3 linked regions of the Homo sapiens genome follow. Changing the gene in region 2 together with the main gene of any one other region gives a genetic interaction. Each region holds a gene or a part of one and is shown on either strand. Other genes may lie near its edges.

What was found.
Region 1: changes in SMARCB1 (region 2) and ROR1 together harm fitness more than expected from each alone (negative genetic interaction), as found in Homo sapiens cells (one large-scale study listed by BioGRID).
Region 3: changes in SMARCB1 (region 2) and SMARCA4 together harm fitness more than expected from each alone (negative genetic interaction), as found in Homo sapiens cells (one large-scale study listed by BioGRID).

What each region holds. Positions count from the first base shown.
Region 1 is NC_000001.11:64,175,909-64,179,049, reverse strand, and holds part of ROR1 (inactive tyrosine-protein kinase transmembrane receptor ROR1 isoform 1 precursor), read right to left. Parts: intron 1,623-3,141; coding exon 195-1,622; 3' UTR 1-194. UniProt on the Homo sapiens protein: Has very low kinase activity in vitro and is unlikely to function as a tyrosine kinase in vivo. Receptor for ligand WNT5A which activate downstream NFkB signaling pathway and may result in the inhibition of WNT3A-mediated signaling.
Region 2 is NC_000022.11:23,831,912-23,835,333, reverse strand, and holds part of SMARCB1 (SWI/SNF-related matrix-associated actin-dependent regulator of chromatin subfamily B member 1), read right to left. Parts: intron 1,763-3,422; coding exon 1,631-1,762; intron 1,194-1,630; coding exon 1,154-1,193; 3' UTR 508-1,153; coding exon of another isoform or gene 355-507; 3' UTR 1-354. Other genes in the region: DERL3 (derlin-3), read left to right, coding at 355-507.
Region 3 is NC_000019.10:11,058,404-11,062,053, reverse strand, and holds part of SMARCA4 (SWI/SNF-related matrix-associated actin-dependent regulator of chromatin subfamily A member 4), read right to left. Parts: intron 3,267-3,650; coding exon 3,165-3,266; intron 2,302-3,164; coding exon 2,169-2,301; intron 2,010-2,168; coding exon 1,867-2,009; intron 271-1,866; coding exon 238-270; 3' UTR 1-237. UniProt on the Homo sapiens protein: ATPase involved in transcriptional activation and repression of select genes by chromatin remodeling (alteration of DNA-nucleosome topology).

The sequences.
Region 1 (3,141 bases), on a different chromosome or scaffold from region 2:
TTGTTTTTTTTTTTTTTTTTTTTTTCTGGCCGAGTGTCTGTCCTGCTTGGTAAGACACAGTGAAACTTCACAGAAGGTACTTGTTGCGATGTCTGCTAAATGAGAACCTTACTTTAATAAAAACATTTGAATATAAATCTTTTCTACGGCCGTCTAGTTTGTCCTGTATACCACATTTACAAAAGTTGTGCATTTTACAGTTCTGCAGAAATCATAGATTCGGTGTGTCCATGAATATTGGCGTCTCCTAGTAAAGATGCTTGCTTTGAGTCAATTTTGTAGGGTTTTTGAGATTTGTTGCCAAAAACGGTGATACCCATTCCACCAGGATGATTTGGAATTGACATGTGTGGTAGTAAAGGAATATTTGCTTCCTGATTGGATCCTGATGAGGGCAAGCTAGTCACATGGCCAGTGCTAGTCGACCCACTGGCACTGCTTGGGGACCGACTCTTGGGAGGTGGGCAGTGCTGAATCACTCTGGGAGGACCTGTTGGCTGGTAGTGGGCAGCTGGAAACGCTGCATATCCAGGAGGTATTGGGTATCCATTGATGGGAATGAATCGCTGGTTCTGAGGTATTGGCGGGCCAATGAAACCAGCAATCTGGCCCTGTGGTGTAATACCCTGGCTCGGGAACATGTAATTAGGATATCTGGGGTTACTGAGATTACTCACTGGGCTGGCACTGAGGGAGGTTGTCTGTGTGGTGGCATTTCCCCCTGAAGGAGTAGTAGAGCTTGTGTGACTTGAGAGTCCCTCCCAGGACCGAAGCCGGACGTGAATATCTTTAAATCTTGGTCTCCTAGAAGGAATCTCATTCCAGCACTCTGTCATGAGGCTGTACATTCTGGGTGGGCAGTCTTCAGAGCATGGTAAGAGCTGCCGTTTTCTCACCATCTCAATCACTTCCTGGTTACTGAATCCATAATATGGCTGGAGTCCAAAACTGAAAATCTCCCACAAGACAACCCCAAAGGACCAGATATCTGAATCAGAAGAGAATTTGCCATACATGATGGCTTCAGGGGGCATCCAGCGAATGGGCAGCAAGGACTTACTCTGGACCCTGTAGTAATCAGCGGAGTAAATTTCTCTGGAAAGCCCCAAGTCTGAAATCTTTACATGAAGTTGCTCTCCGATTAAAATATTGCGAGCTGCAAGGTCCTTGTGGACAAAGAAGTGACTAGACAGGTATTCCATGCCAGCTGCAATCTGAATTGCAATGTGCAGAAAATCTCCGTGGTCCAGGCTGGATTTCACAGTCCCATCTTCATCACTGCTGCAGCCAACATCAGAGTGTGGGGATCTCATGATGAGGAACTCATGGAGATCCCCCTGATTAATATACTCAAAAAGCATGCACACAGGTTGTTCCTGAGTGACGGCACCTAGAAGGCAGACAATATTGGGGTGGTGCAGTTCTGCCATTAGGGAGGCTTCTTGTTGAAATTCCGTCCATTGCTGGGGGTTGTTATAGTCTTTCAAGGTCTTGATAGCAACCAGCTGAGCATGGTCCATGCCTGGGAGATAGAGATGGCCTTTATAGATTTTTCCAAAGGCACACTCACCCAATTCTTCCATAAAGCGTACAGCAGAAAGAGGTAGCTCTTTAGCCTTGCTCTGTATGAAAGAGAGGAAAAACGTGGTTTAAAACATATCTTCAGGCAAGACAGCTTTGCATCCGAAAGGAGGGACGGGGCATATAGAAAAAGGTTCTATAAACAAATTCAATAAAATATTGTAGGTCTATATATCTTTCAAATCGTTGGCTGCAACTCAGGGGAGGTGCCATAGACAACTTTCCATCACTACCCTATCCCTTTCCCTCAACCCAGCCACAAAATGGTTTTTTGCTGTTGTCTAGAGTCTTGGTACTCAAACTGTGGTCTGGGGACCAGCAACATCAGCATCACCCAAACTTACTGCAAATGCAGACTCTTGGGCCCACCTCAGACCTACTGAATCTGCATGTGCATTTAACAAGACCCCAGTGGTTTCTGTGAAGATTAGGGTGTCAGAAGCACTACCACAGAGGCTACAGCCTGGTACTCAGAGCATTTGTAATCTGGTCCTAACTCACTTTCCTGACATGATCCCTTGCTACTTCTCTGTGTGATGGCATCACTTTAGTTAAATAGGTTTTCTCAATGTCCACTCCTGAAACCATTTACATTCTTGCCTAATACTTTTGTTCCTCCAATGTTCTGCCATTCTTCGAATATTTATTGTGCTAAAAGAGAAACCAAAACAAAAGATTGTCCTTCTGAAGTACTCACAATAGAGATGGGAAGGTCTGAAATGCGGTCTTCTCCATTGATTAAATCCTTTGTTTTCTAAAAAGCCTGTTTCAGGCCCCACTTCCCGCAAAACCTTCCCTGACCACTATGGTCATTTCTTTGCTAGACTCTTTTGCCTTTACTGTGAATGCCACCACATACACAAAGCAGTGTGGTGGCTGGTTACACAAGTGGCCTCCATAGCCAGTCTGAGTTGGAATCCTGCCTTCTCCACTTACCAGCTGTGTGACCCCAGATACAACATTTAACTTTTGCCTCAATTCCTTCATCTATAAAATGGGATGATAATAATTGTACTTACCATGTTATTGCAAACTTTTAATGAGTTAATGTTTGTAAAGCACTCAGACCTATGAGTTAAAGTTTGTAAAGCACTCAGACCTATGTCTGGCCCATGGTAAGTACTATTTAACTTTTTGTTATTATTATCAACTTGATGTTTCTGTTCTTTTTATGCATGTATTTTGTCCTCACAACGAGATTTCAAGGGAAATCTTATTGGAAGCACTGCCCTTCATACCAACGTATATCCCTAGGTCTTCGCAAGTGGGTTGTTTATTAATTGACCTTAAGACAGACAGGTGAAGGCATTAGCTCACAATGAAAATAAGTATTGAATCATGACATTTGATCTTGGCAAGTAAATGTCTATAATGTTATATGTTTTTACTATTTTAAAATGTACCTCAAATTTAGTCTGATGTTTCATTTAATTTGTTAGAAAAGAAAGTAATAAAAACAATGCATTTTACATACAACTGATTTTTCAAATAATCCCCATCCTTCAAATCCTTATTTTTTAAAAAAGAATACTACCCTGAAAATTCTAACTGAAACTGACA
Region 2 (3,422 bases):
CCGGATCTGTGCCCATTCTCTTCAGTAAGGCTGGAGCTGCGAGCCAGTTTGCTGCCCTCCCAGATCCTGTGTCCATTCTGAAGAATGGGGACACCTCCCTATTACAGATGAGAACAGAGGGGACATGAACTCCTTGGAGGCAGGGCTGGGAAGGGACCCTGGGCTGTGTCTCCTCCCTGTACCGTGTCAACTCCAAGAGCTGGCACCAGGCCGGGAGGGCTATTCCCATATTCCTCACAGCTGGCTTGTAAGGCAGGAGCTGGCCCAGGCCACAGCACCTGCTGGGGTGGGAAAGGGCCCCAGCTGACCTGGCTATGGGTGCCACTGGAGCTAGAACAGCCCTCCTGCACCCAGGCTGGCGACAGCCCAGCAGTGCCCACACAGGACTGGGCCCTCCGCAGGGGACTTCAGAGCAGCAAGGCCCCAGCTGGCAGTAGCCTGACCATCTGGACACAGCAGAGCCAGGGCGGCCCAGGGACGGCAGGAGAGCTCGCGGCACCTTCCTGAGGCCAAGCAAGGGGAGCAGGGTTAGGGCTGTTCCTGAAAGGCAGAGAGCCTCTTGCCCTGAGCCTCACAGCTACTCTTCTCAGCTCTCTGGGTCTGGAAGGAGAACAGGCTGAGGGGAGCTGAGAGGAGCTGAGGTGCTACCCGGAGCCCCATTCACCCCCACCTGCCCACTTGGGAATCTGAGGCAGAGGAGGGTGAGGCCTGTGTGCCAACCTTGTTCACATACCACCTTCGTCCCCCCAGGCCCCGGCCCCACTCCTGGCTCTCATTATTTTTATGTTAAAACTTTGAAGAAATTGAACATGACCTGTTGAAGAAATTGAACATGACCTGTTGCCTTTTATTTAAAAACTGTTACTAGCCCTGCCTGGGGCTCCTATACAAAAACAAAACACAACCTAAAATAAGGTTTCTTCCTGACCCCAGAGACTGGGGAGGGGTAGGGAGGGTGGGGTGGGGGGCAGGACTGGGGCTCAACAAATGGAATGTGTGCCGGGAAGGGCCACCTGGAAGCCCCCACTCCACCCCCACCCGATCCTCAGGATGGCGCTGGGCTGTCCCCTCGCCTCTGTCCTTGCCAGAAGATGGAGGAGAGGCGGCCCAATCTTCTGAGATGCTCCGTGGGAGCCGTGTGCTGATGGGCTGGTTACCAGGCCGGGGCCGTGTTGGCAAGACGCCTCATCCGCCTGGAAGAGGAGTGGGGAGGGCAATGAGTCGGGGCCAGCTCCCAGCCTGGGCGCTGCCCTTCCCAAGGCTCTACAGGGCAGCCAAGTGTAGGGGTGGGAACAGAGGCAGGATGTGGGCCCCCAGCAGGGTCAGACCCAGCCTTCTCTCAGCCTCGCCTGTCTGCCACTCAGGCCCTGCTCATCACTCCAGGGACCCCAAAACCTGGATCTGGGCTGTGGTCAGACCCTCAGCCTGAGGAATTATGTTTGTTCCATGCAGGGAAACATACCCTGGCGTTTGGATGGGGCCTTATCACCCAGAAGCCTGCCTGCCTCTAGCAGCACTAGAGGTACTCTGTCTCAGAGACCATGGGAGACTGGGAAAGGCAATGGCCCTGCCTCTGCCTGGAAAGCCAGGTGCCTGTGGGCAGAGCCCAGGACCACAGGGCCAGGGGTACCTCGTGTTCCTGTCCTGGTCGCGGATCTTCTTCTCCATCTCAGCGTCTGTCAGAGTCTCCAGCAGTGGGCACCACTGGTCCGCATCGCCCGTGTTCCGGATGGCAATCTCCACTGTGGGCAGAGGGTTCTCGCTACGAGGAGGGGAGGCAGTGAGAGGAATGACTTTTCCAGCTATAGATGGAGAATCCTCAGAAAGCTTTGGCCCCTGTCTGTGCCCTGCTCCTCCCAGCAGCACTGCTGGCACCCAGTGGATGCTCCAGTCACCTGAACCTCAAGGGAGCTGCTGGAGGCGCCAGGGCCTTTCCATAACAAGTGTTGTCGCCATGACCCCATGGGCTTCCCTTCAAAGTGAACTTTCAACAGGGCTTTTGTGCCCAGCGTCTCTCTGTCTCTGAGATGGAGGAAGGGGCCACTGGCTGTGGAGGTGGTCCTTGACAGGACAGCACGGGCTGGACCATGCTGATGCCACAGTGCCAGTCAGGAGGTGGAACCTATAGGGGCAGGAGGACTGTCTGCTCCACTCAGTGTCCAGAGCCAGGGCCCACTGATCAGGGAAAGGGGATGGATGGCGAATGGGAGCAAAGGAGTCTCCCAGAAGTCCCCAGCCCCCCACTACTGAGGGCCACTGCACAGCCTGTTCCTGCATGTTCCACACACTTGCCCCTCAGCCCACCTCCTGGCCGAACAAAACCCCCGAGAGGCTGGTCTGTGCTTAGGATCAGACAGCTGTCTGGCAGGGAGCTGGACAGAAGCCGTATCCCCGGACCACACTCTGCCCTGGGTCTCACAAGGACCACCCAAATCTGCCCCGAGGTACCTTCCTCTTGCCAAAAGGACACAGCAGAGGAAGGGGGCAGCAAGGGCAGAGGCTAAACAGGCATGGGGTGGGCACAGGAGTGCTGGGGAGGTGGGAGGGTGGCTGGCTGCCGCCTCTCTGGGCTTTGATTTGCAAGTCTGTGACAGGACACTAAGGAGACCACAGCTGTGGATGCCACAGGGCCCGTGTGCCTCCCACATGCAGTGGTCCCGTCACCCCCACCTCTGAGAGCAGCTTTGGGTGCTGACAGTGTTTCCCAGTTGAGTGACACCAGACCCCTGGCTTGGCAGAAGGCCTCAGCCTGAGGTCCTAACCATGACTCTCCCACTTCCCCTCCCCTCTCTGTGGTCCTTTCCTTTCTCCTCCACTTGGGCACCTCCACTTGGCTCTCCCTAGGCTCAGTCCCCTGGGAGAAGGACACCCTGCCAGCCTGCGGCCCTGAAAAACACCATGAGCTCTGGGAGAAGCAAGGGCAGGCCGGACTCGGGGGAGGCGCCAGGTGGACACTGATAGAGAGGACAGGTCCCTGCAAACCTCATCTGGAATATGGAAACATTTATTGCTGTGAAGGGCTTTGGAAGGATGACTGTTATTAAAGCAGCCAAAACATCTCCACTGAGGGAGCTTCCTAGGGGCCAGGGACCTTCTCACAGCCTCCCTGTAGTGGGTGGCTCAAGGTTGTGGGACCAGCCTGCTTGCAGAGCGAGTCCCGGCTCTGCACATCCACACCAGTGAGCACACACCCAGCTCCAGTAGCCGTGAGCCCGTTCCAGGTTGGGCTCAGTGCTGCTCTCCTCAGCCTGGGGTCTCAGGGACTGTGGGCACAGCGCAGGGCACTGGCTGCAGCTGGCTCTCCCTGCAGCAGGCCTGACCCCTCACAGCTGAAGCTCAGCCCACCAGGTCCATGCTCATGAGTCGCAGAAGCTCAAGCTCGTACTGGTGACGCAGAGGCAGGGCCAGAGGCAATGTCGGCA
Region 3 (3,650 bases), on a different chromosome or scaffold from region 2:
ATTCTCTCTCTCTCTCTTTAAGACAGTTAATGCTGTTACAGATGCTACTGATGCCAGGACAGGGCCAGTCACAAACAGTCCTACAGCTTCTCTGCTGTATAAATATGGAAGATTCTTTTGTTTATACAGTTTTACTCCAAGTCTGAAACTACATCTGCTGCTACCCGTTACTGCTAAGGCCTATGCCATCTCAGCTCTGGAACGAGGGGCTCGGGGTCGAGACTGGAATGTCGGGGCTCAGTCTTCTTCGCTGCCACTTCCTGAGCGGTCCTGGAGAGGGGACAGGAGGAGAGAGTGTGCGTTGGCCACCCCTGCCAGGGCACCTTGCCAGGGACCTGCCAAACTTTAAATAAACTTGCTCAAGAAAACACTGATGTGGGCCGGGCACGGTGGCTCACGCCCGTAATCCCAGCACTTTGGAAGGCCAAGGCGGGCGGATCACGAGGTCAGGAGATCGAGACCATCCTGGCTAACACGGTGAAACCCCGTCTCTACTAAAAAATACAAAAAATTAGCCGGGCGTGGTGGCGGGCGCCTGTAGTCCCAGCTACTTGGGAGGCTGAGGCAGGAGAATGGCGCGATCCCGGGGGGTGGAGCTTGCAGTGAGCCGAGATGGCGCCATGGCCATGCCCAAACTTCATGTTTCTCTACAGGACGAGTCCCTGTGACCACACTCGGCCCTCTCGGGACCTTCGAGGCTCCACGTGCCTTCCCTGCTCTGTCCCATGTCACCTGCCTGGCCCTTGGCCCCTGACCTACAGCTTCCAAACCATCTTGGTTCTTCCTGACTGTGAAAGATCTTTGCTCTTTCATATATATATATATATATATATATATATATATATATATTTTTTTTTTTTTTTTTAAAGACAGGGTCTTGCTCTGTTGCCCAGGCTGGAGTGCAGTGGTGCTATCACGGCTCACTGCAGCCTCGACCTCCCAGGCTCAAGTGAGCCTCCTGCCTCAGTTTCCCAAAGTGCTGGGATTACAGGTGTGAGCCACTGGACCTGGCCTCATAAAACCTTTTTAAACAGCCTGGCATGGGCCATAAAACACCCTGCTCTGGATTAGGCAAGAGAGACAGCATCACAGCCCAGACCCTCCTGCCTGACACAGGGGCCTCCCCTCCACATGAGGACTTCATGAATGTCCTCAAACGTCACGTGCGTCTTTCGTCAGACTAATTCCCAGGCACTGAAATTTGCTGCTTCTGTGATGACAAAATGGCATTCGCTGGGCTTCAGCGGGAGCCAGGCCCTTCGGTGGGGGCAGCCCCCTAATCCATGCAGCCTCCTTGCTTTGCATAAGAGGAAACTGAAGCTTGAGAAGCAAAGTGACCTGCCAGGTCCCACAGCCAGGAAGGGCCAGAGACAGAGGTGAGATTATTTAAAGCCAGCAAGTGGATCTTCTCCGGCTCCCCACTGCACCCCAAAAACTATCCACTGTGGTCTTGGCGTTTCTGCCCATTCTCTATGCCACTGAGGAGACGGGGCACTGTCTGGTGGGTCCCCAATCCTAGCACCTCCTACCCAACCCTAATCAAGCCCTGGCCTGCCCGGCCTCAGCCCAGGAGCCCTGGTGCCCTGGGACCGCCTGCTGCCTGTCCTGAGGACTCACGTGTCCCCCAGTCCCCAGACACCCACGGGTACTGAGAGCTGGTTCCGGGGTCACACAGGCTTGGCTTTGAGTGGCAGCCCTGCCACATACTGGCTGTGTGACCTGGGGTCAGCCATGGCAGGTCAAGCCTCAGCTTTCCCACCTGCAGCGTGGGGGCGTGGGAGCACCGCCCCACAGGGCTGTCCCATCAGGGCCCCGGGATGCCTCCTGCCACATGCCAGCTCTGCCTGCTCGGGGGCCCGGCCTCACCTCCTCTTGTTCCTCCTCACTGTCATCGTCACTCACGACCGGCTTGGCTCGGGACCCTCGGCTCGGCCGCCGCCGGCCGCCCTTCAGCCGGTCCTGTGCCTTCTCCTTCCGGCCAAGCTTGATCTTCACTTTGACGGACCGAGCTGGAGGGGACCGGGAGGGAAAGACAGCCTTGAGCTCTGGGAATGCAGCACCCCCACAGCAAGGGGCGTCTGGGAGCCGGGAGGGCTGTGAAAAGCTGGGGCCTTGGGGGCTCTCGGGCCAGCGTGAACCCCGGCGTCCTGAACCCCCCCGGGACTCACATTCGGATTCGGAGCCTTCCTCCTCGCCCTCTTCCTCCTCCTCACTCTCCTCGCCTTCACTGTCATCCTCCTTCTCGATTTTCTGCCGCACGCTGGTGAAGACCGACTGCAAGACGATGGAGTCTTCATAGATCTGGGCAGAGACACCAGGGGCTTGAGTGGATGGGCCCGACTGGAGGGCTGCCTGCCCGGCCCTGGCCCCAGCCCCAGCCCCAGCCCTGTGTTGCCCCTGGACAGCTGATCAGTGGCCAATGCGAGCCTCAGCGGGTCGGGGCTTCAGCCCACCCAGGGTGGAAGGCCCTCTCCATAATCTTCCTCCATAGGGGCCCGAGCATCAGACTTCTGAAATGCTCCAGGGTGAAAGGTCAGGCACACTGGTTTGGGAATAGCTGCAGGTGCCTCCCTCCTTCTGCACAATCTCTGAGGTCTGCAATAACATTGGAAATACATGCCCCTTGTTGAAGCCAGCATCTTTCCCAAACTCATCAAAGTCAAGTCTTTTTTCTGAGAGGAATCAATCCCAAAGACACTTAAGAAAGTTTGCCAAGTTGAGGCTGTGTATGTGTCAATTCTATCACAGGAAAGAACAAACCCACAGGATTCCTTTGAAGAGAATGTGCCCCAGGGAATTTAAAATAAAATTCCAACAGACAGAGGACTCTGAGTCTATTTCTTCTGTTGTGCCTATCTTTATTTTCTTCGGTAAATACATACTGCTTTTGTAATTGCTAAAATATCCCAAGTTGGAAATTTTTAATTTTTTCTTTTTTTTTTTTAAAGACAGGGTCTTGTTATGTTGCCCAGGCTGGTCGTGAACTCCTGGTCTCAAGTGATCCTCCCGCCTTGGCCTCCCAAAGTGCTGGGATTACAGGCACGAACCACCACAGCTAGCGGGACTTGTTTTTAACCCATCAATTCAGAAGGGAAGGAGGGGCGGGTTGGGTCAAAGCCCAGCTGTGGGAGTGGCCCATCCCCAACCCCCAGCGGTGCCCTCACCAGGGAGCCCTCCAGGTTGAAGGTCTGTGCGTTCTGGCACAGGAGCATGACGTCCTTCTCTAGGTCGTTGAGGCTGCGGTACTTGTGGTTGCGAATGCGCTCCTGCAGTGGACGGGAGGAGCAGGTCTTACCTCAGGACCCCGCCTCGCCTGCCCGCAGGCCTGGCTGTGTGCTGGAGACCCCACGGGCTAGGATTCCTCGTGCCTATGAGGATGTGGCCGAAGCGCCAGCCTCGGTAACCTGGCTCACTAGGCATGGGAACTGCATGACTGAGGCCCAGCACTAAGTGAGTGGGACCTTGAAGGAACACCCAACACCGACTGCCCACTGACATCCCTCAGGACACCCCCAACCCTTACAAGGAACCCCAAAAGCCCACGACCAGGTCCCTAACCAGGTAGCCCAAGGCACCGCCTAGGTGGTTTCTGGTCATTCTGCCCACACACCACAGCTCTCAGATGGGGGTGCCCCTGGGTCAGACTCCCC